Homo sapiens: one gene and its partners. The protein of the gene in region 3 purifies or fractionates together with the protein of the main gene of each other region. This does not show direct contact. Each region holds a gene or a part of one and is shown on either strand. Other genes may lie near its edges.

Evidence for each region.
Region 1: the proteins of DMTN (region 3) and CREB3L2 purify together in Homo sapiens (co-immunoprecipitation; one large-scale study listed by IntAct). This does not show direct contact.
Region 2: the proteins of DMTN (region 3) and UBR1 purify together in Homo sapiens (affinity purification with mass spectrometry; 3 studies listed by BioGRID and IntAct, with this or other methods). This does not show direct contact.
Region 4: the proteins of DMTN (region 3) and ATE1 purify together in Homo sapiens (affinity purification with mass spectrometry; one large-scale study listed by BioGRID and IntAct). This does not show direct contact.
Region 5: the proteins of DMTN (region 3) and TRAPPC10 purify together in Homo sapiens (affinity purification with mass spectrometry, with the first as the bait; one large-scale study listed by BioGRID). This does not show direct contact.

Annotation. Positions count from the first base shown.
Region 1 is NC_000007.14:137,900,384-137,906,122, forward strand, and holds part of CREB3L2 (cyclic AMP-responsive element-binding protein 3-like protein 2), read right to left. Parts: intron 5,466-5,739; coding exon 5,319-5,465; intron 3,635-5,318; coding exon 3,576-3,634; intron 1,040-3,575; coding exon 971-1,039; intron 1-970. UniProt on the Homo sapiens protein: Transcription factor involved in unfolded protein response (UPR).
Region 2 is NC_000015.10:43,022,539-43,028,277, reverse strand, and holds part of UBR1 (E3 ubiquitin-protein ligase UBR1), read left to right. Parts: intron 1-449; coding exon 450-502; intron 503-1,614; coding exon 1,615-1,717; intron 1,718-2,848; coding exon 2,849-2,897; intron 2,898-3,294; coding exon 3,295-3,449; intron 3,450-5,476; coding exon 5,477-5,576; intron 5,577-5,739. UniProt on the Homo sapiens protein: E3 ubiquitin-protein ligase which is a component of the N-end rule pathway. Recognizes and binds proteins bearing specific N-terminal residues that are destabilizing according to the N-end rule, leading to their ubiquitination and subsequent degradation.
Region 3 is NC_000008.11:22,065,740-22,071,478, reverse strand, and holds part of DMTN (dematin), read right to left. Parts: intron 4,964-5,739; exon of another isoform or gene 4,775-4,963; 5' UTR 4,604-4,774; coding exon 4,586-4,603; intron 4,395-4,585; coding exon 4,320-4,394; intron 3,953-4,319; coding exon 3,797-3,952; intron 2,464-3,796; coding exon 2,419-2,463; intron 2,061-2,418; coding exon 1,961-2,060; intron 1,599-1,960; coding exon 1,542-1,598; intron 1,298-1,541; coding exon 1,145-1,297; intron 1-1,144. UniProt on the Homo sapiens protein: Membrane-cytoskeleton-associated protein with F-actin-binding activity that induces F-actin bundles formation and stabilization. Its F-actin-bundling activity is reversibly regulated upon its phosphorylation by the cAMP-dependent protein kinase A (PKA).
Region 4 is NC_000010.11:121,917,236-121,922,974, forward strand, and holds part of ATE1 (arginyl-tRNA--protein transferase 1), read right to left. Parts: intron 5,177-5,739; coding exon 5,114-5,176; intron 1-5,113. UniProt on the Homo sapiens protein: Involved in the post-translational conjugation of arginine to the N-terminal aspartate or glutamate of a protein. This arginylation is required for degradation of the protein via the ubiquitin pathway. Does not arginylate cysteine residues.
Region 5 is NC_000021.9:44,101,235-44,106,973, forward strand, and holds the end of TRAPPC10 (trafficking protein particle complex subunit 10), read left to right. Parts: intron 1-1,543; coding exon 1,544-1,738; intron 1,739-2,058; coding exon 2,059-2,297; 3' UTR 2,298-5,318; downstream 5,319-5,739. UniProt on the Homo sapiens protein: Specific subunit of the TRAPP (transport protein particle) II complex, a highly conserved vesicle tethering complex that functions in late Golgi trafficking as a membrane tether.

The DNA of each region.
Region 1 (5,739 bases), on a different chromosome or scaffold from region 3:
AGCACTGGGCACAGCAAGTGCTAGAGGAATTTATCAACTTGGTACCGTTACAATTTTTGTAAAATGGGTTTGAAATGCAATTAATAAACTAGCTAATTTTAAAAAACTAATTTAAAAAACAATGATTTGCAGCCGGAGCAGTGGCTCAGACCTGTAATTCCAGCATTTTGGGAGGCCAAGGTGGGGGCGGATCATGAGGTCAGGAGATTGAGACCATCCTGGCCAACATGGTGAAACCCCATCTCTACTAAAAAAAAAAAAAATACAAAAATTAGCCGGACGTGGTGGCGCGTGCCTGTAGTCCCAGCTGCTCAGGAGGCTGAGGCAGGAGAATCACTTGAACCCGGGAGGCAGAGCTTGCAGTGAGCCGATATCATGCCACTGCATTCCAGCCTGGGCGACAGAGCAAGACTCCGTCTCAAAAAAAAGAAAAAAAAAATACCAATGATTTTCTCTTTTTTTAAACTAATAAGTATCATTTGCTACTAAAATTAGATTATAATGAAGTGGCCAGTGCCTCCTTGGTCACCTCTAAATTTTGATGTCATTTTCAGGAGAATCAGGCTTGTTGATCTTATTCTCCTCCAAGCCTCTTTTTTAACCCCCTAGTCATAGTCCTTGTCATGATCAGCTTCTTCTTCAATCCTGTATCATTTAGGAAAAGTAAAGAATATGCATGTATGTGTACATGTATGTGCATATGAGAGTGTGTACATATGTGTATTGTGGATGTGAACATGAGAGCATGTGTGCATATGTGTTTGTATATGTGCAAGAGTAGCACGTGTGCATGCGTGTGTGTGTAGCAGGAGTGGGTGGGTGGAGTTTGGCCATGCTGAGCATCTCAGCACAACTGCACTTTCACTGTGACCTCCTCCACTTTTCTGCCATCCCTGGTTCTGGATTCTATCCTCTTCCTTCCCCATCTTCCATTGGTAGCGCAATCAGCTCTCAGTCCAGTGACACTTACCTATTAGTGTTCTCTAGAACCTCTACCTTCTTCCGAAGCTCCAAGTTCTCAGTTGAACAAGACTCCACTCTACAAAGGAGGGAGAAAGAAGAAAATTATTATCCATAGAGCAAACACTAAGCTAGGAGCTAGGGTGGAGGTAGGTGGGGATGAGGAAAAGGAGGGTTGGGGGGATCTGCCACCCCATGGAAGTGTGGGAAAGTATTGAAAGAAGGATGAAGAGACTTAAGAAAAAAAAAAAAATAGGCCGGGCACGGTGGCTCACGCCTGTAATCCCAGCACTTTGGGAGGCCGAAGCAGGCGGATCACAAGGTCAGGAGATAGAGACCATCCTGGCCGACATGGTGAAACCCTGTCTCTACTAAAAATACAAAAATTAGCTGGGCGTGGTGGCACGTGCCTGTAATCCCAGCTACTCGGGAGGCTGAGGCAGGAGAATCGCTTGAACCCAGGAGTCAGATGTTGCAGTGAGCCAAGATCGCCACTGCACCCCAGCCTTGTGACAGAGCAAGATCTGTCTCAAAAAAAAAAAAAAAAAAGAAAAATAGAAGGAGCTGGGGCCGGGCGTAGTGGCTCATGTCTATAATCCCAGTAATTTGGGAGGCTGAGGCAGGCAGATCACTTGAGGTCAGGAGCTCAAGAATAGCCTGGCCAACATGGTGAAACCCCATCTCTACTAAAAATGCAAAAATTAGCTGAGCATGGTGGTGTGTGCCTGTAATCCGAGCTACTTGGGAGGCTGAGACAGAAGAGTCACTTGAACCTGGGAGGCAGAGGTTGCAGTGAGCCAAGATCATGCCACAGCACTCCAGCCTGGGCCACAGAGCGAGACTCTGTCTCCAAAAAAAAAAAAAAAAAAGAGGGAGCTGAGTGATGAGTGCCTGAATAATGAAAGATGAATAGTGACAGTACAAAATATGACCCTCTTTTAGGGTGTTACAACCTCTTTCCTCTCACCTCCTCCCTAGTGTTCTCAATGCCCATCATACTTCTCCCTCTATACTACAGTAATCTGGATACTCCCAGCTACACTCTTACCAGGACTGATAAGAAGTGAAGAGACTTAAGCAAAGGGCAGGACGAGAGCCCAGGACTAGGAATCCTGGTGCTGGGGCACGCATGCCCAAAAGAGACAGTAAAGAGACTTTCATAGGAACATCTTGACCCTGGATGCCCATAGAAAATGGTGGGACAGCATGGGACTACAGTCTTCCCACGGTATTCAGGGGGGATTAGTTCCAGAACTCCCCACAGATACCAAAATCTCCAGATGCTCGAGTCCCTGATTAAAAAATGGTGTAGTATTTGTATATAACCTTTACATATCCTCCAGTATATGTTAATCATCTCTAGGTTATTTATAATACCAAACACAATGTAAATACTATGTAAATATGTGTTATCTTGTATTTATAGTTGTATTATTTTTTATTGTTGTAGTTTTTTTTTATTGAGTTGTTTGGTTTTGGCTTTGGTTTTTTGAGACAGAGTCTCACTCTATCATCAAGGCTATAGTGCAGTGGCACAATCACAGCTCACTGCAGCCTCAACTTCCTGGGCTCAAGTGATTCTCCCCTCTCAGCCTCCTGAGTAGCTGGGACCACAGATGTGCACCACCATGCCTGGCTAATTTTTTTTTATTTTTTAGGGGGTCTGGCTATGTTGCCCAGGCTGGTCTTGAACTCCTGAGCTCAAGCAATCCTCTCACCTTGGCCTCCCAAAGCACGGGGATTATAAGAGTGAGCCATCACACCCAGCCTATTGAAGTTTTTTTCTGAATATTTTAGACCCATGGTTGGTTGAATCTGAGGACGCTGAACCCCCAGATATGGAGAGCCAACTATACTTAATGCTGCATTACCAGTACTTAAGTCAGGTGATAGAAGCACTAAACTTTCAATAGTAGCTTTGAGAAACAGCCAGGAACCACCAGCCACTCCTTTCCCCAGATCCACATGAAGTTCATTTCTGGGTCTGGGGCCTCATGCCCATCTTAAAAATATCTTGGTTTGTTAGCTAAAGAACTAACTTCCAGGGCTAAGACAAAACTGTATTTAATTCATCTTTTTCTAACAGCCCGCCTGATATTACAGACTTTTCAAAAGAACAAAGATTGCCTTCAAGTGTTTTTGCAAAAAAAAAAAAACATGAATTGTAGTGGCTGGAAAATAAAGGCTGCCAACCTGACATCTTTCTTTCCCTATGTGCCCTCTCTAGAGCATGAAGGAGTGTGGCCAATGGGGGCTGATTAAGTAGCACTGCTCCTTTCAGCTAAAACAGGGCTTCTCCTGCTAGAAGTTCCAGGAATGTGCAGGAATGTTAATATTTGTATGTGTTTGAAAAGAAGTCTGTGAGGACTCCGGGGTCCTTGGCTGGCAGTGGTATGATTCAAACACCTACTAAGGTACTTTCACTTCTTTCTTGCTTTATTATAGACGTCTCCTCCAAATAACCACTAGGTGGCAGGCAAACCACAGCTGATAAACCACCGGGTTTCCAAGGTGGCCAGAAAGAGGAATTGAACTGCTTCTCCCCGATTCTCCGCACACCCATATTTCCCTGTGCATACTGCCCGATGAACGCAACAGTTTGCCAGCAGGCTTACTTTTTCTCCAGGCTGTCCATGTATTCTTTCTTCTTTCTCCTACTTTCCTGAGCAGAAATCTGAGAGAGAGGAGTGGGAGGAGAATGATTAATTTCCAGCTCTGTAAGTAAACCAGTTAAGATGGGAGGTGGTTAGCGTAGAAGTCACCAAAGCCCTGCTTACTTCTGCAAGCTGCTTGCCATTTGTTTAAGCTGCTGGTTCATTGACTAGTCTGTCCTCCCGGGTTTCTAGCTGCCAAACTCACACCTACTTTCCTACAAACCAGGCCACCAGTAAAATGGACACTGAGTGGCCAGGAGCAGTGGCTTACACCTGTAATCCCAACACTTTGGGAGGCTGAGGTGGGCGGATCACTTGAGGTCAGGAGTTCGAGACCAGCCTGGCCAACATGGTGAAACCCTGTCTCCATTAAAAATACAAAAAAATGGCAGGCGCAGTGGCTCTAGCCTGTAATCCCAGCACTTTGGGAGGCCAAGGCGGGTAGATCACCTGAGGTCAGGAGTTCAAGACCAGCCTGGGCAACATGGTAAAACCCCGTCTACTAAAAATACAAAAATTAGCTGGGCGCGGTGGTGCATGCTTGTAATCCCAGCTAATTGGGAGGCTGAGGCAAGAGAATCGCTTGAGTCCGGGAGGCAGAGGTTGCAGTGAGCTGACATTGTGCCACTGCACTCCAGCCTAGGTGACAGAGAGAGACTCCATCTCAAAACAAAAAACAAAAAACAAAAAAATTAGCCGGGCATGGTGGCACACGTCTGTGGTTCCAGATGCTTGGGAGGCTGAGGTAGGAGAATCACTTGAACCTGGGAGGCAGAGGTTGCAGTGAGCCGAGATCATGCCACTACACTCCAGCCTGGGTGACAGAGTGAGACTCTGTATGAAAAAAAAAAAAAAGAAAGAAAGAAAAGAAAAGAAAACAATGGACACTGAGTGAAGAGCCAGGCCAGAACATGTGGCTCACAAACCATCAGTGTGGTCTCAGATAAATGAGTTTAACTCCTGGACCTCTGCTGGCTGAAGTACATATATAAAATAAGACAGCTGGCTTGGTCATACATCAACTTGCTGCTGGTTCCGCACATGGATAGAGTGACACTAAGCTCTTGTCTTCCTTCCCTCTTTGCCCCCTCCCTCCTGGTAGGCCTGTGCCTCAGCCATCCCCCTGGTTTTCATCAGGCCTGCTCAGCACTGAGGGGCCCAGGGGTAGGAGACTACTGAGTCCAAATATAGACCAGCAAACTGCAGAAGTTTTGTGATCACAAAACCCTACCAAGAAAAAAAAAAATTAACCAAGCACTTGCAATGTATTTGTATCTTATATATATATAATATATATATATGCTGTATTTTATATAGATACATAGAGTACATATATATGTCTACTAGAGGAAACTATTGTATATATCATACACCCAAAATTTAAAAGGCTGAGTTAAAAAAAAAAAAAAAAAACTAGATGGAAATTCTAATAGCTTCCTCCCACCCGTAAATGTATCATCGTGGGCACCAAAGAGGTAGATACTGATCTGGGAGTCTGCTGGCCTCAAGAGGGATGGGATGGGCTGGAGGAAGAGAGGGGCACGTGGTGAGGGTGCTCCTCCCAGGGCTTAGGGAAGGGAAGGGCTGGGCCTTGGTCTCCACCATGGGATGGGGTAGTGCTGGCCGTTGGGAAGGCAGGGAAAGGGATGCTGACTCGATTCTGCTCGTCTCTGCTCTAGAAGTGCCTAGATTTGAAGAGCTCACCTTATTCTTGATCTTCCTCCGAATTTTCTTCAGGGCCTTCTCCTCTGATTTTGACAGGGGCAATTTGGTGGGGATGGGATAGCCCTCAGCGATCAGGGTCCTCTTCTCCTCCTCTGTCAGGACCAGAGGGCCTGATCCCTGCAGTTTCTGTGCAGACCAAGGAGCAGAAAAGGGTCAAAGAAAAAGAACTGGGACCACTGAAGAATCACCTCCCAATGGGATGATGAGAATCTGTTACAATGTCTTACAGAAGGCTCTGAGACAAGGATGCCCCATCTGCTTTGGGTGACAGATGGGTATTTTGAAGGGCATGGGAAGATGGGGAAGACACCCCCATGTGAGTGTTATAACCTAGGGATTATAATTCAAGGGAAAGAATAAAGAAGCCTCCACCCATTATTTCCCGGGAAGCACCCTACTC
Region 2 (5,739 bases), on a different chromosome or scaffold from region 3:
TTAGGACATCTAGACATGTATTGCTATAGATTAACTAGTTGGAGCTCATTAATTTTGTTACCTTGGTTTTAGGGATTAATACAGCATGGGCATGTACATAAATGATGAGGGTGATGAACATACTACATAAAGAAGAGCTTCTTTTCTTTGAAGTATTGGTAATACTATGTGTGTATGCTGTAGATGTATGTGTGTACTTATACACACATATGAAGGCAAACTTAGATAACCTTTCTTAAACAGTTTATATATACATCTTACCTCTTACGAAGTTGGTCTCCCAAAACGTAGATAATTGGTTTTAGACCTAATTTTTTAATAGTGGAAATTGATCTTTTTAAAATTATTTACAAAGTACTTCAGAGATGCAGTAGAAAATGTATTTCACTTCACAGAGAGGTGGAAGTCATTATATGAAGGTAAAAATGACAAAAATATTGTTTCAACAGGAAAATAATGAAACTGGCTTAGAGAATGTCATAAACAAAGTGGCCACATTTAAGTAAGTGCTTAATATTTATGCTTATTCTAAAAGGTAGTTTGATCTTTGTTCTTGTACTTTGGATACTTTGTAGAAGCTCTGAAGTTCTTGCCTGAACTCCCAAGAATAAGAGTGGAATACAGATTAGAAAGGGTGAGAATGAGGGGCTCACAGTAGACACTTAGCACCTGTTTGTTGAAAAAATGAGTGTTTTTGGCAAGTGAATGAGAAATACTCATTTATGATATTAGGTGATTTATTTAGATAGTAAGTAAATGAACTTTTCTGATACTCTCTTTCCCATTAATCTGAACCCATGATTTCATTTATTTTATAAATTTTTATTTTATATGCTAATTTTGGATTATTCTCTGGTAGAATTAAAACAGTATTTTATAATATTTTCATTTCAGTATATAAAATGGAAATACAAATTTAATTGTATTAATCTTTGAAATTTGAAAAATCGATACTGATAGTGAATTTCTACTTGTTACAGTATTGTGTTTACAGATACATTACTAGTTTCAAATAACTTTTAAAATAGGGTATAGCTTTTCTTATGATCTAGTAATGTTCATTGAAATATTCGACTTAGAGATTGGATAGAAACCAAAAGCTGTTTAATGTTTAGAACAAATATGGAGTACTCCTTTTGACCTCAGTGATTTTCCTTATAGTACTATATAAAGGATTCAGTAGTATATTTTCATTTGCAAATTACTAAGGTTATGATGTCTCCCTACTGTTTTAGATATGACCTTAGACAATGAAGTGTCTAAGGTCAATGAAGTGTTCTTTAGTTGAACAGACAACCTTTAGGCATCAGAGACTCTTAAATCTCTAAGAAGCTTTAGAGATAGGGCATGGTATCAGTTCTAGATAGTATAAAACAAACTTCTCCAGATTTGTTTGAATTTCATTATTATAAAACACAGCTTAGCTGTTATCAGGCTTTGTGTTCACAATGTAGGTTTTTAGTTTTATTATTGCAATGGAATTTTTCATAAGCTAAATGAGACATAATTTTTTTCTGTATATTTGACTTCTAGATTAATTTTTAGGTTTTTATTTTGTCTATATTTTATACTTCAAGAACACTGCAGTTCATCTTGTATTTTCCATCTATTTAGGAAACCAGGTGTATCAGGCCATGGAGTTTATGAACTAAAAGATGAATCACTGAAAGACTTCAATATGTACTTTTATCATTACTCCAAAACCCAGCATAGCAAGGTAGAAAAAAGTATCCTTTTCAGTAAATAAACCTAAATGCTTTATGCTTTCTAACTCCACAGAAAATTTTCTGCTTTTTCTATAGTTTCACGCTGGTTCTTATTAATAGAGGTCATTATGTCACCCAAGAATTAAAATTGAATCAATAATCTTATCTAGTATACAGGCAATATTCAGATTTTCCTGATTATACTACATATGTCTTTAATAGCTGTTTTGGGAAGAGGATTCAATCAAGCATCATGGACTTCATCATCACACACTCATTTGATTGTCATGTTTCTTTAGTTTTTGTTTTGTTTTGTTTTTTGTTTTTGTTTTTGTTTTGTGAAATGGAGCCTCACTCTGTTGTCCAGGCTGGAACGTAGTTGCACGATATCAGCTCACTGCAACCTCCACCTCCCAGGTTCAAGTGATTCTCCTGCCCCAGCATCCTGAGTAGCTGGGACTATAGGCACATGCCACCATGCCTGGCTAATTTTTGTATTTTTAGTAAAGACCGGGTTTCACCATGTTGTCCAGGCTGGTCTCAAATTCCTGACCTCAAATGATTCCACCCACCTCGGCCTCCCAACGTCCTGGGATTACAGGCGTGAGCCACCTCGCCCGGCCAATAGTTTCCTTTAATTTAGAAGATAATTCTTTTGCATTTTTTTCTTTTGTAACATCGGCATTTCTATAGAGTACCAAATAGATTCAGCTTAAACAGTTTTTGGCAAGAATACTATGTAAATGATATATTGCATCCCATTATTAGGCACATACGTCTTTTTGTCCCATGAAGGATCATGTTAAGTTTGATCAGTTAGTTAAGGTGATGTCTGGCTTTGTCCTTATCAAGTAAATACTTTACAGCCCATAGCATAGTACCCTGTGCATAATAGGTACTGGGTAAATATTTTCAGTAGAAAATAATGGAGACTAAGTTTTTGATCAGGGATATTCCTCATCTATTTTGCATTAGGTTTCTCTAGAACACAATTTTATTTCTAGGACAAAGAGGCATTTTGAATACATGCTTCAGTATATAAAGTATTTTAATAGGTGGTTGGGTCTTTCCTGACTGCTTTAATGTATTTCATTTGTTTCATGCTTCCAAAGCAGTATATTTAATGATAGATTTTTTTATAGGCTGAACATATGCAGAAGAAAAGGAGAAAACAAGAAAACAAAGATGAAGGTAAAAAGTGAGATTCTGAATTGACTCATTTTGACTATTTTCTGTGGTTTCACATCAGCAAAGCATATAGTTTTTTGTTGTTGTTGGTTTTTGAGAGTGGGCAACTCAAGGAAGTGCAAAGAGCTTTTTGCTTCTTATTCACATATTAAGATATGGTATATATCAGTAGTGATTGAATTTAAAATTGATAACAAATGTAGTTCATTTTGGGTGACTGATATAGTACTTACATTACACTTAACATTGATATTTTCAGTACTGGAAAGGTAGCAAAAAAGCATGTGTTGTTTTGCATGTAACCTATTATTTTTTGACATTTGCACTTTAGTATGTAGGATAACCCAAATAAAAATGTACCTGTTTGTCTCTTTCCCCATCCATTCCCCACCTCCTATAGCATTGCCGCCACCACCACCTCCTGAATTCTGCCCTGCTTTCAGCAAAGTGATTAACCTTCTCAACTGTGATATCATGATGTACATTCTCAGGACCGTATTTGAGCGGGCAATAGACACAGATTCTAACTTGTGGACCGAAGGGATGCTCCAAATGGTTTGTTTACCTGAAATATTTTCTCTACATCAAGTCCTAGAGTTCTTGGGGAGCTAGGGAAGATCTCAGGTCTAACTTCAGTTGGAACCACATCTAGAGCACCGGAAACATAGGGGTCATTAAAAATAGCTTACACACAGCACAAATTTTTTTTAGTGATCTCGTGTTTTTAGCATCCTTACTCTTGGGAACCATTTCTGTTTAATAAAACCCATGAAAACAAAAACAGGTGTACTTATGCTAATAAATTGACATGTTGTTATTGTGTCATGATTTTTTATATTTTTAATTTTACTTGAATTATAAGGAGACAGTATAATAAAATTTGAAGATAGGTCTAGACGTCAGTCTTGGGTTTCCCCACTTCCTATTTAAGGAGCAAATAATAATTTTCTCATTAGTAAAATGGATAAAAGTGTAATTATTCATAGAGGTAGGAGAATTAGCTAAAGTGAAAGCAGCTACTTTTCCTTGTTACTGTTGTAGATAAATACACGTTACTTAATTATGCCACGTCATGGTAGTTGTAACACCATATTTATTTATACCTGCCTAACTAAATGTTCCTTTTTCCTTGAGTATTGTTGGTCTACAGGTTCTAAATGCTGTCATTGCCATATGTGTGCCTCAATTTTTATTATAACACTGATAAATACATTCACTAGTAAATTTCAAACCATAGAGATATGTTTGAAACCAAGTTAAAATTTCTCTCCCTGAGTCCCAGTATGCTATATAGGACATAAGCATTGTTAAAGTTTTGTATATTCTGGAAATCATTGCACATTAGTGCATATAGATCTACTTATTCTTGATAGCTGCGTAGTCCATTGTATGGATATAATGTGTTTCAGTAGTCTCCTATTAATAGACATTCAGGTGTTTCTAGGTCTTTGCTGTAACAAAGAACAATAAAATGTACGTTCTTATACAAATGTTTTTGCATACCTAAGGGAGCGTATTTGTCATACTAATTCCTAATAGTTGGTATATACCTTTACATTTTTGATAGATGTTTTCAAATTGGCCTCCAAAAATGTTATACCAGTTTACTTTACCATCACCACTATGGTCAAAAGTGCCTACTTCCCAATACCTATGCCAGCTCTATATTTTACTAAACACCAAAATTTTTGCCACTGTAATAGGTGAAAAATAGGATGATCTTGTTTCAACTCATTTTTCTTTAAGTGAGGTTGAACTTTTTTTTTTTTTTTTTTTTTTTTTTTTGAGATGGAGTTTCACTTGTCACCCAGGCTGGAGTAGGCTGGAGTGCAGTGACACAATCTTGGCTCACTGCAACTTCCGCCTCTGGGTTCAAGCGATTCTCCTGCCTCAGCCTCCCAAGCAGCTGGGATTACAGATGCCCACCACCACACCTGGCTAATTTTGTATTTTTAGTAGAGACAAGGTTTCACCATGTTGACCAGGCTGGTCATGAACTCCTGACCTCAGGTGATCCACCCACCCAAACCTCCGAAAGTGCTGGGATTACAGAAGTGAGCCACCAGCTCCGGGCCAGGTTGAACATTTTTCATATGTGTATTCATCATTTCTCTTTCTGTAAACTGCTTAATGTGAACTGCTGAAACCTTTCCGTGTTTTTTACCTATCAGCTTTCTTATTTTTATACTTCTACTTAAAATAGATTTACCTTGCTAGGCATGGTGGCCCATACCTGTAATTGCAGCACTTTGGGAAGCTGAAGCAGGAGGATCACTTGAGCGCAGGAGTTTAAGACCAGCCTGGCCAACATAGTGAGATGCTGTCTATACCCCCCGCCCCCTCCAAAAAAAATTTAGCTGGGCGTGGTCGTGTGCACCTCTAGTCCCCAGCTACTCAGGAGGCTGAGGCAGGAGGATCACTTGAGCCCAAGAGCTTAAGGCTGCAGTAAGCTAGGATTGCCCCACTGCACTCCAACCTGGGTGACAGAGTGAGACCAGTCTCTGAAAAAAATTAAAATTAAATTAAAAATATATTTACCTGAAGAAGCGCAATTTTAAAGATCTCTTATTTTCCTCCTTCAGGCTTTTCATATTCTGGCATTGGGTTTACTAGAAGAGAAGCAACAGCTTCAAAAAGCTCCTGAAGAAGAAGTAACATTTGACTTTTATCATAAGGCTTCAAGTATGTTTGAGTATCACTCTTCAACACATTTGTCATTGAAAGTCTAGATCTTAAGGAGTTTTAATTTGTCAATCCTGAAAGTTTATATCTTACAGAGTTTTAATCTGTCAGTCCTTAAAACATAGGTAACCCTGAAATAATTTTTTTCCTAGCATTCTTAGTT
Region 3 (5,739 bases):
AAGTTGCAGTGAGCCGAGATCTCGCCACTGCACTCCAGCCTGGGCAATAGAGCAAGACTTCCTGTCTCAACATTTAAAAAGAGAGTCAGGCATGGTGGCTCACGCCTGTAATCCCAGCAGTTTGGGAGACAGGCGGGTGGATCACTGGAGGTCAGGAGTTTGAGATCAGCCTGGCCAACATAATGAAAACCCATATCTACTAAAAATACAAAAAATTAGCCAGGTGTGGTGGTGCATGCCTGTAATCCCAGCTACTCAGGAGGCTGAGGCAGGAGAAATGCTTGAACTCGGGATGTGGCGGTTGTGGTGAGCTAAGATTGTGCCACTGCACTACAGCCTGGGGCAACAGAGTGAGACTCCATCTCAAATAAATAAATAAATAAATAAATAAATAAAATAAAAATACAATAAAATAAGAGTAACATTTTCTCACCTTGCCATGAAGCTGGGTAGGCAACACACACATACACACACTCATGACTGAAATTCAGTGGGTGCAGCAACATGAATGGAACTGGAGGCCATTGTCTTAAGTCAAACAAGACACAGAAAGACAAAGACTGCATGTTCTCACTCATGAGTGGGAGCTTAATAGTGTGTACGCATGGATGTAGAGAGTGGGATGATGGACCATGGCAACTCAGAAGGGTGTGGGGGGTGGTGATGGGAAATTGCTTAATGGATACAACGTGCAGTATTCAGATAACAATATCATAAAAACCCTGACTTCACCACTGTGCAATCTATGCAGGTAACCAATTACACCTGTACCCCATAAATGGATAAAAATAAAAATTAAAATAAAATTCGCTGGGGACCAAACCATCTATCATTTATCTTTCTCTTTCCCAGTGCTCCCCTCACAGAGCCTGGGATGCAGAAGTTTGATACATGTCTGTTGAGTCAGGAAATAAATGAATGGAAAGCAAATGAATGACCAATAAAAGGGCCACTTACACCAAGCGCTATGGGAACACAGAGAGTGAGTGAGCAAGGAGCCTGGGGGCTCCTGAAGGTAGGAAAAAGCCCACGAGGACACCATAGGGCAGGGGTGGGAGTGGGTTCACGGACTGCAGCAAGAGCCAAGGGGAGGGAGTGCAGGAGTTTCCCAGACCACCCATTCCACTCTCCCCATCTCTCCTACCCACAACAGCCAGAGACGGGGGGCATGGCCAGTAGTCGGTTTCGATTTTGGCTGGCTGGTTGGGGTCTGGGGGCTGGGCTGCAGGAAACTTGGATGACTCGATGATGAGATCCTCGATGAGGTGCTTGGTCTGAGGGCTGCCTCCCACGGACTCTGCAGACAAAGGCCAGGGTCAGCCAGGTGTGCCCTGCCCGAGGCCAACTTGGCTACCTTCACCCCTCCCCCCTCACACCTGTGAGGTCCTGCAGGTAAAAGCAGTGTACACGCTGAGCACGGGGCACACGTGCTGCTGTGACATGCTATCCTCCCGACCCCCTCCAGCCAGCCCGCAGCCCCAGGGCACGGCCTCCCAGCATGCAGCCGGAAGCAGGCTCTGGTGAGCCAGGGGCGCCCTCACCTCTCTGCTTATAGATGGGAGGCTTCTTGTAGATGTTGGAATCTGGGCGGGAGGTCTCTGTGGGAGGAAGAACAGATGAGGAGGAGGACATGCTGATGGCAGGGAGGCTGGGGCCAGGAGAATGGAGATGATGGAACGGGACAAGGTGGGGAACTCACTGGCCCCTGTCAAGAGCCAAGACAGGGCTGGCATTCCTGGCACTGCCCCTCAGGGGTTTGGGACATTTTACACTTTTCCGGCTGGGGGAGAGAGAAAAAGTGACAGGTCTCCCATCTCTGGGAGGGGTCCTGGCCTCCTGGGGCCTACTTAGCCCTGAGGCGAGCATATACCCCAGAGAGTGGGGGACTGAGCGTAAGGGGATTGGGGTTCCTGATGGAGAAAGTCTTAGGAAACAATGAGGTCGTGCCGAGAAGACCTACCAGGGTGGTGGAAATGGGGCAGGCTGGTCCGGGGGGTTCCAGTGGTTCTGGGGGCCGAGGCCTGAGAGATGATTCCAGGCGACCGGCTGTCCGCCCACACCTGCAGAGCAGAAGCGTGTGGCTCCAGGGCCCCTAACCCCCTCCAACCCACACATGCACCCCATCAGCTCACACCACCCTCTCTGTCCTCCCATCCTGGCCGGCTGCATCCCTCCAAACCCAGGGCAATGTTGTGGCACAGTTCCAAGGACCTACTGATGGTGCCTGGCCCAGGGAGAAAGGGTTGAGGTCCTGGGTCCGACAGAATGATGGACACAGAGCTGGCCAGTGACAGCCAGGGGGCCGCTGATTCGGGCACTCCCTGGGCTCTGCAGAGCTTGGTCTGATGTGTGAGGGGAGGGAGTTAGGATCCCCTTCAGGGCAGGGCAGGGCAAGTTGCAGGTGTGGGGCAGACTCACCTCTGGGGATGGTGGGGGGGATGTGGATTTGGGTGACAGCGAGCGCTGTGAATGGAGAGGGGGCTGGTCAGAGCTACAGGGGCAGATTCAGCCTCTTCCCTAGAATTCCAGAGAGGCCACCTCATCCCCCACCCAAAGCCGCACACTTTCCTGGCCAGCTTCTGGGCCACCTCTGCTTTCTTGGATCCTTCCCACAGTTCCCTGCACAAAGTCCTCAGCCTTCCCACAGGAGGCACAGAGAAGCACGCGAGCCTTGCTCAGTACTCCTGGGGCTCCAAGGGCACTCTTTTCTTCCTTCCTTCCTTCCTTCCTCTCTCCTCCCCTTTTCTCCTCTCTCCCGCTCTCATCTTTCTTTTAATTTTTTCCTACTTCCTTTGTCCTTTTTCTTTCTTTCCCTGCCTTCCTCCCTTCCTTCCCTCTTTCCTTCCTCTCTCTCTCCACTTTCTTCTCTCTTGTCTCTTATTCTTTCTCCTCTATCCCTCTCTCATCTTTCTTTCTTATAGTCTCACTCTGTTGCCCAGCCTAAATGCAGTAGCTCTATCACAGCTCACTGCAGCCTCCCCTTCCCAGCCTCAAGGGATTCTCCCACCTCAGCCTCCTGAGCAGCTGAAACTACAGGTGCACAGCACCACATCTTGCTAATTTTTGTAGAGATGGGGGTCTCCCTGTGTTGCCTGGACTGGTCTCAAACTCCTGGCCTCAAGTGACCCTCCCACCTTGGCCTCCAAAAGTGCTGGGATTATAGGTGTGAGCCACCGTGCCTAGCCTGGGAACCAGTTGGGGAATAGTTTGTCCTGTCCTCAGAGCCTCAAAACAAATAGAAGAGACAAGACCAAGAAGCATCCAAGGATGAGGTCGGGGTTTATCACGCAGGTACTGAAGTCACCCCATGATCTAGCCCCCTGTCACTGGTCAGCCACGACGCTACCCTGTCTTGGAGGCAGTTGATGAGTACCTGCCTTGCACTGTCTCCTGCACCTTCACTACCTTGCGCGTGGATGGGCAGAAAGGTCACCTCTATTTTACACGAGGGTAAGCTGAGGCCACAACATCACATGGGTCCCTCCGCTAGACTTTCAGCCCCCGCTCTCAATGCTTCTGAACTGTTTCCACAAATCTTGCTCTTTGTGCCTCTTGTGTGTTGCTGCCATCCAAAGGTGTCCACCCCTCTACATCTGAGCCACATGCCAGCCCAGAGACCGTTCTGCCTGCTCTCTTGAACACCGGATGGACTGACTGGTTGGTTCCTGCGCACAGTTCCCTCTCTTGTTTTGCCGAGGCAGACCTCCAGGAAAGGAAGCACGGGAGGGATCGGTCCCCACCCAGTGTGGCTGGGGGGGGCCTCCCCCGGAGTCCTGCCCAAGAGGAGCCCCCTCACCTCGCGGCTGCGAGGCAGCTCCACGTGTTCCAGGAGGGAATAAGTGAAGTGAGGCTCGTAGATCATGAGGTCGGGCCGCTCGATGTCCAGGATGGCCTTGTCCTTGGGGATGGCAGCCAGGTCCTTGTAGCCCAGCACCTGATTGTCCATCTTGGCCTGAAGGGAAAGGTGCGCGTGAAACTGCTGTGCCGAAAGCCCCGCCTAGGACACTGGCCCTGCTAGCTAGACTTACGTCAATTACCAAGAAAATGGACCGCCATTGCAGACGTTAACAATTCTATTATTTTAAGAAATTAGTCACCTTAAAACATGATAGTCCTTTGCCTAGCACTTCGGATTAACGAGGCCAGACCAGTGGAAGGGGGATATGGGAGCTTCTCTGGGTTTCTGGGTTCTCTCTGCCCGCCAGCACCGGAGGGACCACCACTGGGGAGGCTCTGCGGGAAGGCACGCTAGCAGCCAGGGGTCCCCCACCCTCCCCCCTCCCAGCCAGGGGTTGCTGGTGGCCGAGAGGGGTACTCACCACGATGCTGGAGGGAGAGCCAGGCACACTGGAATCTCGGGAGGGGCTCACGCTCCCGGGGGAGGTAAGTGGTTGCTGGGGAGAGCGAGAAGGCGGGCGGGTGGGCACGTGCGTGTGTGCGGGAGCGGGGCGGGGGCGGCCCTAGGCCTGGGGGACCCGGGGCGCTGCGCGGCGCTGCGCGGCGGGTGGCCACCAGGTGGCGCCCTGGACTCCCAAGCGGCCCCCACCCGCCCTCGGCGGCCCCGGCCCGGGGCGGCGCCGCGCACCTTCTGCAGCCGTTCCATGCAGCACGGAGCTCGCCCGCCGGGTCACTCGCAGAGCCCTGTGCGCGAGGGGAGAGGACAGCGTGTCAGGCTCGGCGCGGCTGCTGGGCGCTGCGCGCTTGGGGCCGCGAAAGCAGCTGGCGCGTTCCCCCGGGCTGGCGCGTCCTCATCCCTCGGCGGTGACTCTCCAGGCTGCGGGGAGAAGGGAGGGAGGCCGCGCCGGGGCGGCGTTAGGCTGCGGGGCCTCCGCGGGCGGCCGCTCTCCAGGCAGCCGGGCCCCTTGCGGCTGAGGCTTCCCATCCGCTCAGCCCCGGAGAACGCGCGCGTGGACGGGAGGCGACCGAAGGACGGGCTGCGCTTGTTTTTGAGCCATTGTTCTCTGGCTTCAAAGGAAATGACGGCAGGGGTCAGCCGGCTGCCCGGGCGGAGGCCTCCACGGCCTGGCCCCGCCGCACCTGCCCTCCCCGCCCCGGCCCGGCCTGCGGCCCTGGCTGAGGCCCTCCCCTCCCGGCCGCTGGTCCCACTCCCGCTCGGGGCACTGTCCCCGCCGCCACCTCCCCGCGCTCGCCCAGGAAGGGTTAACACAGAGGGTTCCCTGAGCAGCCCGGCTTCTGCATCCCTCATCCAAAACCTGACATCCGCACTCCGAAACTTTGTGAGTGCCTACCATGACGCACAGGTGGAAATTCCACACGTCAGAACTTCACACAAACTTTGTTTCATGGAAAAAATTATTTTTAAAACACTGCATAGGTCGGGCATAAGTGGCTCACGCCAGCAATCCCAGCACTTTGCGAGGCTGAGGCAGGAGGATTGCTTGAACCCAGGCGTTCGAGACTAGGATGGACAACATAGCGAAACCTTGTCTTTACAGAAAAAATTTTAAAAATTAGCCAGGCGTGGTGCTGGATGCCTGTAGTCCCAGCTACTCGGGAGGCTGAGGTGAGAGGATCACTTGAGCCCAGGAGATCGAGGCTGCAGTGAGCCGAGATCGCACCACTGCACTCCAGCCTGGGTGACAGAGTAAGACCCTGCCTCGTTAAAAAAAAAAAAAAAAAAAAAAAAAAAAGGTCTTGCTCTGTCGCCCAGGCCGGAGCGCAGGGGTGCCATCTCGGTTCACTGCAACCTCCGCCTCCCAGGTTCAAGCGATTCTCCTG
Region 4 (5,739 bases), on a different chromosome or scaffold from region 3:
AGAAGGCTCCACAAGGGACTTTTCTCAAGTAGATAAAAGCGATCATAGCACTTGATGCGTTTAAATATACTAAGAAAAAACTTACATAACTGGGATTTATTTTCAAAATAATCTGGTCATAGTTATATACACTATGCAAACAAAAAAGATAATTAGTAACTCCAAGGAAAGCAAAAACTTGTGCAGGAAAAGTAATCACAGTACCCGCCATGGTTCAGTTGTGAAGCATATTTACACAGTCACAATGGATATGAACACATCTGCCCAAAATCACACTTCTGAATGGAAAGCTAGGGATGGGGACAAAAACGAGCTTGAATGTGGCAGGGAAACAGGGATAAGAGAAAACTAAATCCTTATCTTCCACAGAGAGAAGCCCGGAAATAATGGAGAAAACTAACAGAAAAAGAAAAAAAATGCAAGTGTTACAATTATATAAGCATGTTGCTTAAAGACAGGGAGATGAAAAACCAAAAGAATTAGTTAAAATGTTTCAAGATGACTGCCTTAGGGGAACAGGAAATGGGACAGGGGGGTTGGGGGATTGCTTTTTCCAAAACAAACTTTATTGCAACTTGACATTTAATGAGCATGTGGAATTCTGATAAAAATAAAAAACTTAAAAAATCATAGCCAGAAAAGTTCATCCTCATTTATACACACATACTGGAGAGTCCCTACTGACTAACAAGAAGCTAAGCTGTTAGCTATAAGCCCCTTTCCTTTATCTAAGTTCTCATTGCAACTGCTGTTATATACAAGGTAAAAATAACCAGAAGAGTAAATATGGAAAATGACTCCATAAAAAGATGATGTGGCTGGGCCCAGTGGCTCAACGCCTGTAATCCCAGCACTTTGGGAGGCCAAGGCAGGCGGATCATGAGGTCAGGAGTTCCAGACCAACCTGGCCAATATGGTGAAACCCCGTCTCTACTAAAAATACAAAAATTAGCAGGGCATGGTGGCATGCGCCTGTAGTCCCAGCTACTCAGGAGGCTGAGGCAGAAGAATCACTTGAACCTGGGAGGCGGAGGTTTCAGTGAGCAGAGATCGCGCCACTGCACTCCAGCCTGGGAGACTAAACAAGATTCTGTCTCAAAAAAAAAAAAAAAAGATGATGTATAATGAATTACAAAGAGACGCAATTCAGGAAACATTTGATGCCACGTAAAATGCAAAAATCACATAACTACTTTATTTTGCAATGTTAATGAATCCCCTTTTATAAAGGCAATATGCTTAGAATAGTGCTTTCCATGTAACAGGCACCAAATACAATTTAGATTCTTTTTTCTTTAACCAATCGAAATCACCCTTTTCTGATCACAGATTAAGCCAATCAACTTCAAACTTATGAATAGAATCCTGTCCATAATCCAATAAATTGCTAATTGAAGACAAATGACTTCTGCCTTAGAAGATACCTTCTCTTTATAACCACGAAAACTGAAAGAGGACAGCACAGGATACTCTGTCATTCTATTCTTTGTGTAATGACACAGTGTCAGCAAACCAGACCCCATTTTTCTCATCCTCTGCCAATCCAACGGCCAGCTGGACTTCTGGGTCGGGGCGGGGGTGGGGGGGACGTGAAGAACTTTTCTTACAAGAGGATTGTAAAATGCACCAATCAGCTCTCTGTAGCTAGGATTGTAAAACGCCCCAATCGGCGCTCTGTAGCTAGCTAGAGGATTGTAAAACGCACCAATCAGTGCTCTGTGGCTAGAGGTTTGTAAAATGGACCAATCAGCACTCTATAAAATGGACCAATCAGCACTCTATAAAATGGACCAATCAGCACTCTGTAAAATGGACCAATCAGCAGGACATGGGCAGGGACAAATAAGGGAATAAAAGCTGGCCACCCTACCCAGCAGTGGCAACCCACTAGGGTCCCCTTCCACACTGTGGAAGGTTTGTTCTTTCACACTTCACAATAAATCTTGCTGCTGCTCATTCTTTGGGTCTGCGTCACATTTAAGAGCTGTAACACTCACTGCGAAGGTCTGCGGCTTCATTCTTGAAGTGAGCGAGACCAAGAACCCACCAGAAGGAACCAACTCCAGATACACCAGCACTTTGGGGGGCTGAAGCGGGCAGATCACCTGAGGTCAGGAGTTCGAGACCAGCTTGGCCAACATGGTGAAACCCATCTCTACTAAAAATATCAAAAAAATTAGCCAGGTGTGGTGGTGCACGCCTGTAATCCCAGCTAGTCGGGAGGCTGAGGCAGGAGAATCGCTTGAACACGGGAGGCAGAGGTTGCAGTGAGCCGAGATAGCACCACTGCACTCCAGCCTGGGCGACAGCAAGACTCCATCTCAAAAAAAAAGCTCCTAATCAAGTATCAGTGAACCTTTGGGAGTCTGCGATCATTCTAAAATTAACACGCAAAATGTGCTGGGCATGGTGGCTCACGCCTGAAATCCCAGCACTTTGAGGTGGGTAGATCACGAGTTCGAGAGTAGCGCGGCCAACATGGTGAAACCCCGTCTCTACTAAAAACACAAAAATTAACCAGGCCTAGCGGTGGGCATCTGTAGTCCCGGATACTCAGGTGGCTAAGGCAAGAGCACTGCTAGAACCCAGGAGGCGGACACTGCAGTGAGCTGAGATCACACCACTGCACTCCAGCCTGGGTGACACAGCAAGACTCAGTCTCGGTGGGGAGGATATGCAAAATGTTACATATTTTTGTCTACATCCCTTTGGGCAGGAGGCCAGCTCTCATCGACTTCTCAAAATGGTTTGCAACCCAAAAACAAGTTAAGAGCAACCAAGGGAGACAGCTTTGAGGACCAAACAAAAAAACTAATGGACAAAAAACTGTTTAATTTTTTAATTTTTCATTTCTTAAAGTAAAACTGTCTTTTAATTTTATGAGTATATATACACATTGAAATTGGGGGCAAATACATGCTTCAAAATGTTAACGCACTTTTCACATTTTCTATCAAAAAAAAAGGTTCAGGTGCAGTAGTAGCTCACACCTATAATCCCAGCACTTTGGGAGGCTGAGGCAGGAGGCTCCTTTGAGCCTAGAAGTTGGAGATCAGCCTAGGAAACATGGCGAGATCAGCCTAGGAAACATGGTGAGATCTGCCTAGGAAACATGGCAAGACCCCTTTTCTATAAAAAAAAATGTAATTTGCCAGGCCTGGTGGTGTGTACCTACAGTCCCAGCTACTTGGGAGGCTGAGGTGGGAGGATTACTTGAGCCTGGCAGGCAGGCTGCAGTGAGCCATGGTTGTGCTACTGCATTCCAGCCTGAGCAAGACCCTGTCTCAAAAAAAAAAAGAAAAAAGAAGAAAAAGATGATGATGACCTTATAACCAGAATAAGAGAGAAGATTTTTCTATGTTAGGGTGAGGTGAGAAGGTACATGGAAAATCCAAAAGATTATGAAAAAATCCAACGAAGACTTTGTAGGAAAATAGACTTTGGTTTAAGTTTCCCATTTAAGAAAACTGGACTCTGGGCCAGGTGCAGTGGCTCACGCCTGTAATATCAGCACTTTGGGAGGCTGAGGCAGGTGGATCATGAGGTCAGGAGTTCAAGACCAGCCTGGCCAACATAGTGAAACCCCATCTCTACTAAAAATACAAAAAATTAGCCGGGCGTGGTGGCAGGCACCTGTAATCCCAGCTACTCGGGAGGCTGAGGCAGGAGAATCACTTGAACCCAGGAGGCAGAGGTTGCAGTGAGCCGAGATCGCGCCATTGCACTCCAGCCCAGGCGACAGTGCGAGACTCCGTCTCTTTAAAAAAAAAAAAAAAAAACTGGACTCTAAGTGTAAGTGGCAGATTAAATTTAAGCCCTCTTCCTTCCAATTAATTTTTTTTTCAACTTTTATTTTAGATTCAGGGGGTATAGGTACAGGCTGGTGACCTGGATATATTGCATGATGCTGAGGTTTGCAATATGGATGATCCCACCACCCAGGTACTGATCGTCATACCAAGTTGGTTTTTCAACCCTTAGCTCACGCCCTCCCTCCTCCTCTAGTAGTCTCCAGCTTCTACTTTTGCCATCTTTATGTCTGAGTACCCAAGGTTTAGCTCCCACTTATAAGTGAGTGAGGTGGGAAATTAAAGAAAAATAAAATTAAAAAGAAAGATAAATAAGCTTTCCTGTATTAGGCCGACTTGTCCCAGAGGCAGCAACAGGCACGGCCCAGACCCAGGAAAAGCCTTGATAATATTATCTAGTGTGCTCTGGAGATTCTCCCAGCACTCAACATGCAGAGAAGAAAAAATAAATTTTCCTTTGTTTTACGGAATGAGTTCATAGATTCCTGTTCTCTGTAACTAGTGACTTCAAGTATTGTTTTATCTGAGAAGTACAATGAATGTCATGAGAAGCCTGAGTAGGCCTGAACTGCAGCTGCCTGGGCACCATAGTGAAGATTATGGGATAAGCCCAGGCAAACCTAGATAACGGACATCTGGGTTGCTTGGCAACGGTCATGTGCAATCCTGAGTTTGTCCTGCCTCTGTATCCCTGCTTTCACGCCACTGTAAGCTTGCTTCAAGCTAGCCCACCCCCTTCTGTGAACTGTGTATAAAAGTCTTTGTTCCGGGCCCAGTCTTTTAGACGTTGAGTCAGCTGGGCCTAAGTGCACTCAATAAAGTTTCTCCTGTTTTAACCCGAGGTCTCTCTTGTCCTCCTGAATCCCACAACATGAGAACGTGAACCTACCAAGTAATTTATAGGAGCCTGTAGCATTGCTTGAACACAAGCACTGTGTCAAGCAATACACCAGAATGCAGAAAATTCTAAGCTAAGTCCTATAATATTTAATATCCAAAAGTAATGTGAATATTTACCAACATTTTCCCAATATTTCATGGCATTCATTGACAAGATTGCTAAATTAAGAGGGTATTTTTTTCACATATTTATATCTGAACCAATCAAACAATATTACTAAAACCTACTGATCAGCACATAAATACAGCATCAGTATGAAGAAAAGACATAACTCATTTACTTTTCCTTTTAAAGGACATCTACCTAGAGCGGAAATAAACATTAAAAAAGCACAAGAGACTACTAAAATATTATACACAATCTTCATACTATAAATCCTCTTTCTACTAATTAAAATTCTTACCTTATTGTGTACTGAGGACAACATGTTTGATTCATGACAGGTTTGTACACATATTTTCCACTTCTAAAATTATAAAAATAGTTTGTTAATGTCTTATATATTTTTCACTTGCACCAAAACAGCCTAGCACAGGAGCATTAAATTAAGGTTAAAAATCTAATCAACATTGTAGAAATGCATGTAGGTTTAATTACTCTTCATAAGCCAAATAATCTTCAAAGTGCGTGTAGCAAAGTTTAGAACCCTGCCTTTTATTTCCTAAAGCTTTACTTGTGTACCCCACGGCCAATCATCTCAGTTCCCCTCTCACCAGCATCTGCCACCCCTGCTCTGCCTTCACCTGCCACCAATCCCCAATACCACAAGGGCAATGAGAGAAATGCCCACGATGCTGTGGGACTCATGTATGTGATGCCTGTGACAACCACACTTGGGTATTCCACATGCACCAGCACGGAGTACCCCAAAACTAACCCGCTTCTTTCCATGCATTCCAGGTCTATGGTACTAACAGAACTGTTCATTCTGTTCTCAAGTCAGAGACCTGGGAGTCATTTTAAACTCCTCCCTGGAATTCACCTCTATATCCTATTAGCAAGCTTTCCTTCATTTTAAACCCTATCCTA
Region 5 (5,739 bases), on a different chromosome or scaffold from region 3:
TTTATGAAAAGTTTATGAAATTCTTTGGACAGTGCCCCAAAGAATTAGTAGTTTGCAAATGGATATCTTGTTTTAAGAAGGGACGAGATGATGCTGAAGATTAAGGCCATAGCAAGCAGACCATCCACATCCATTTTCAAGGAAAAAATTCACCTTGTTCATGCCCTAATTGGAGGGAACTGACAACAGCAGAAATGACAGCCAACACCGCAGACATCTGAACTGGTTCAGCTTATGCAATTACGCCTGAAGGGTGAGCAAGCGTTCCACTCAGTGGGTGCCAAAACCCTAGTACCCAGGTCCGTGGCCGACCAGAGCAGAGCTTCCCATGGAAACTTCAAACACACGGGATCAAGATCCTGAAGCATTTACTCAAAGAACCATAACAGGAGATGCAGTGTGGCCTTCCCAGTACCATCCTGAAGACAAAGCAGACACGGCAATGGCTACCAAGAGGTGGGGTGGCCCCACCAAAGCAGAAGCAGACTGGTCAAGAGCAGAGGCCACAGCAACAGGTTTTTGGGATACTCAAGGCATTTTGCTTGTTGACTTTCTGGAGAGTCAAAGGACAGCAGCGTCTGTGTATTATGAGATTGTTTTGAGGAAGATAGCAAGAGCTTTGGTAGAAAAACCCCTGGGGAAGCTTCACCAGAGAGTCCTCCTCCACCACGACAAAGCTCCTGCTCATTCCTCTAACAAGCCCAACTTCGTGAGGGTTTCTATGGGAAATCATGAGGCATCCACCTTGTGGACCTGATTCGGCTCCTTCTGACTGATTTTGGTTTCCTGATCTTAAGAAGTCTTTAAAAGGCACCCATTTTTATTCAGCTAATAATGTAGAGAAAGACTGCGTTGACATGGCTAAATTCTCAGGCCTCCCAGTTCTTCAGGGATGGACTAAATGGCATCGTAAGCAATGGCATCATTGCTTACAAACATGTCTTGACCTTGGTGGGGCTTATGTTGAGAAATAAAGCTTATATTTTCTGTTTTCATCTTTGGATTCCATTTTTGCATGAACTTTTTGTAGTTCCCTCATACGTATTCTCTTTCCATCCTTAAAAAGCAGCTCTGTGAGGCTGGTGGTGGTCTCAGCACTATACAGCGGTCATTGAGCCTGGAGGCCTTGGGGTGCTCTTCTGAGTGGCAGAGTTGGCTTCAGACCCAGTGGTCTTGGATACTGCCACTTACCAGACAGAACCCATTAACTGCCAAAGTCACCATACTGTGGAAGATGACACAAAAATTTGAAAACAAAATTAAATCATTTATTAACCTCACAGGAAAAATGCAGTTTTCTGTACACGTCCAGCATAATTCATTCTAATCCAGAACTAATTGAAATTGGACTCAATGAAATAGGGGTTGCCACCGTGAAAGTGCATGGCTTTATCTTCAGGCGCAGCTACAAGGCACTGGGCTCTGTGTCCGCAGTGTTTTGTCAGACAGCGTTGGGTGAGAGGATTGGGTAACGACGGCCGTGACTCTCGCCTGAGTACTGGAAGGCCCGTCCTGGATGACACATCGCTTCCTCTCGTTTCAGTTGTCGACAACAGTAGCAACTGGGCAGTGTGTGGGAAAAGCTGCGGTGTCATCTCCATGCCAGTGGCTGCTCGGGCCACTCACAGGGTCCACATGGAAGTGATGCCGCTCTTCGCCGGGTATCTCCCCCTGCCCGACGTCAGGCTGTTCAAGTACCTCCCCCATCATTCTGCACACTCCTCCCAACTGGACGCTGGTAAGGACTTTGGAAGAAAAAGTTTACCTTCAGTATTTGAGCAGGTGAGCACTTTGTGCGAGAGGTGATAAACTTATGACTGAGCAGGTTGGAGAACTAGCGGCGTGTTTTCAGTGCCGGTAGAAACTGGTACTAGAAGCCTCATCCGCTGTTAGAATCTTAGGCACCTGCTCTGAAAGCCAAGCCTCTGTGCACAGAGTGCTCTGTAAAGGGGCAGCCTCGGGTGGCATTCTGCACGTTCAGCCTGGCTCCGTGTGGCTTTGCCCGTCCCCAGGTGAGTGTCGGCGCAGCTTGGGTCTAACTTCCTGTGTGTTTTGCAGACAGCTGGATAGAAAACGACAGCCTGTCAGTAGACAAGCACGGGGACGACCAGCCGGACAGCAGCAGCCTCAAGAGCAGGGGCAGCGTGCATTCGGCCTGCAGCAGCGAGCACAAAGGCCTACCCATGCCCCGGCTGCAGGCACTGCCGGCCGGCCAGGTCTTCAACTCCAGCTCGGGCACACAAGTCCTGGTCATCCCCAGCCAAGATGACCACGTCCTGGAAGTCAGTGTAACATGACAACGCCAGGGTGAACACACGCCACTTCCCAGCTAGGAGTGCACTTTATGGGACTGTGACTGGACTCTTCCGTTCTGGCTCCAGCCAGACCTTCAGTGGTCCTGCCTGGCCGTGGGGACATCAGAGAGTGTCATCACGCAGCTGGCCAGCTGAGTTCTGTTGTTGTTTTCATGCCGCCTGTGATCTCAGATTCCTGCTTTTCTCACCCCGTCCCCATGCTGGTGTCCGACGCCGCTTACTCAGAGCCCTGGCCTCCCTCCCCCTACCTCACACGCTGCTCATGAAAGTTTCCACCCACGCTGTCTCCACGGAACAGCCTCCGTCTGCTGGCTCTTCGTGGAAGGCCATTTGTCTTTCAGGTAGACACTCAGCAGCCCTCACGGTCTTAGTGACGTGTGTGCCTTTCTGGTCACACAGCTGCCCAGTTTCCTGATCGGGGTGGATTTGTGTCCCCTAAGGGGTAAAACAGCCGTTTACCGCAGATCCTCTCATTGTGCTTTTCTAGAATAACACCCTTCTAGGGGAGGCGGGTGGGGGAGGGAGGGATCATAACCCCTTCTGTGCCTTGGGATGCCGGAGCTGGGGGACCTGGAGGCCCATCAGCCGGAGCCACGTGAAAGGTACTGAAGAAAGCTGAGACCCGGCTGTGAGGAGCGCCTCAGCGGTGAGGTGGTTTAGGGATAAATGTTTCTGGAACCCTGTGGTCCCCCATAATGTTGATAGAATATCATATGCACTGGGAGTTAAATATATTTAATTTAATGATCATTATATATGTGGGGGTTAATATGTTGTTTTTCTGTCCCTTTAAAGTCTTTACATGTAATTGTAGCTGTATAATCGTTATTTTTCTTTTGCATCTTAAGTCTTAGAAATTAAGATATTCCATCGTGAGGATGAGAGAGGTCCTCAGTGTGTTTTTGGTCTGGTTGTAGGGAAGGACTCAAGTCCTGGAATGTCCTCCACTGGTCTACTGAGTTGCAGTCACACTGTTCCAATGGATTATTTGCTTTCGGTTGTAAATTTAATTGTACATATGGTTGATTTATTATTTTTAAAAATACAGACTAACTGATGTAATGTTTATGTATAAGTTGCACCAAAAATCAAGGACAAAAATAAGTGTGTTTGTTTTTACAGGTGTGAAAGTCACAGCTTGTAAATAAGTGTTGTATGTATTAAACCTTTTCCAGTTCTCCAAAGCGATGTATTTTTGTACACTTGAAATAGAGTACTCTTAATTTACTGGGCAAATGTGCTTGGAATTGAACTTGACAAGATTAGCTCAAGCAGATAGAGTCGGGTCCAGCAGTGGGTGGCCCTCGTGTGAATCCCCGTGGATGTGCAAGTTGTGGAGAGAAGGAGCACCGGGTTCCTGCCCAGCACTGTGCTTGCGGGAGGCGGTGGGGCATGGGAGGAAGGAGGCACAGACCGGGGAAATATGACAGCCGTCATTTCCAGTATTCTCTGTGTTGTCTTTTAGCTCATTCAATAAATAAAGGTGGTGTGATTTTTTTTTCCTCCTGTCTTTTTCATTTGTAGAAACTGGAGACGTGTAAAGAAGATAAATAATTGTGTAATTAAACTTTCCAGAAATTTATCTTCCTCATGTGCAGTTTAACAAACTTGGTCAAACTAGTTAGCAAATTAGAACTTCAGAATCTAATGATAGTTTAGGGTTTCTAAAATAAGGTTTTTTATTGTAAAAATTGACGATTGCCCTGCATTTCTACCAAGTCCTGTGAATAAAGAGATGGGAGATTTGATTCCGTCAGAAGAGACTGTAATCCGTGTCGTCAGCCTGGGAGCCTTCCCCAGTGTAATGTAGCTTTCTCTCTTACCTTCTGGAAGAGGGAATGTTTCATTTATTACTGTTTGATTTTCTTGTATCTGGTTCTACTCCCAGGATGAAATTATCCAACTACATATATATTTAGAGGAAGAAAGTGAAGGGGAAATTTAAAATGTTTACGGCGCTTAATTGCCTGGAAATGAAATGAAATCAAATTTATCAGTTTTTTTCCCCCTAATTACCCAAAAGATCTTTTGCAAACTATGTTACATGAATGCTTCTGCCTCTTTAAGACAAAGAAGAATGTCACCCAAAATTGTCATTTTTTTCTTAATGTTCATCATAAAAGTCCTAAAAGAGTAACTGTAATTGGATGTTTATTGTTTTTATCTAAAGTAAGGTGTATGTGTTTGAGACAAGCTGGTTTTGTTGATAAAGAGATGTTAAATAATTGTGAAGCCAGATATGCAATGTGTATCTGAAAAGCAAGGAATTTGCAGCCGTTTTACAAATATCTGTGGAACATGTAAATACTGTCAAATGGAAAATAAAATAAGTTATAATTTTTGTGAATTTCATGGGATGTCCTATGATTGGAAAAATTATAACTCTTCTGATTCTAATGTGGAAATTGTTGTATTTAATCTGAAAATGACTTTACCTACAACAGTTCCATTGTCAGCACAGCCTAGGAAGGTCAGATCCTGTATTAATTACTCTTAGTGGAGATGCCAGATATCCCATACAGAATTAGCAGAGAAAATACACACAGGCTTCTATTCAAATTTTCTTTAGTGCTTAAAATTAAGTTTTAAAATGAAATCAGACACTGCAGGTTTGTATATAAAATGAAAAGCTATACTACTTTTTACAAAAGGGCAAACTGGGCTGATGTAAATGTTTTACTTTCAACTGTGTTCTTTAAAATAAATCCTACCTGGTTTTTAAATTTTATTTTTCATGAAAATGCTCCTTTCTCTACATTTATTCATCCTATATACATCAGGCTGTAAGACCCCCCCCAGTCATCATTAATACAATGTGTTGGGATTCTGTGACTGGAAAAGGTGACAAGTTGGTGACTTTGACACTGCAGGTATTCCATTTTCATGGTTTACTATGAAAAGTCATTTTTCATATTATGTAATATATTGTTAGATTAAAACCATTGTATTAAGACTTTAAAATGTAAGCATTGTAATTCTGAAAATACACATTTTAAGAAGAAACTATTTTGCACTGGATCTTTTGCTGCGACATGGTGTGACAACAGTATGTAATGTGAAGATTTTATTGTTTTATCTCCCTAGTCCTTGTTCCTGACTCTTGGGCATAGATTATTTGCCTTTTGGGAAACATTCGGATTATTTTTTTTTTTTTTTTTTTTTTTTTCTCTGAGACAGTCATGCTCTGTTGCCTAGGCTGGAGTGCAATGGCGCGATCTGGGCTCACTGCAGCCTCCGCCTCCCAGGTTCAAGCCATTCTCCTGCCTCAGCCTCCCGAGTAGCTGGGACTACAGGCATGCGCCTCATTTTTATACTTTAGTAGAGATGATGTTTCACCATGTTGGCCAGGCTAGTCTCGAACTGCTGACCTCAGGTCATCCACCCGCCTCAGTCTCCCAGGCGTGAGCCACCGCACCGGCCAGCA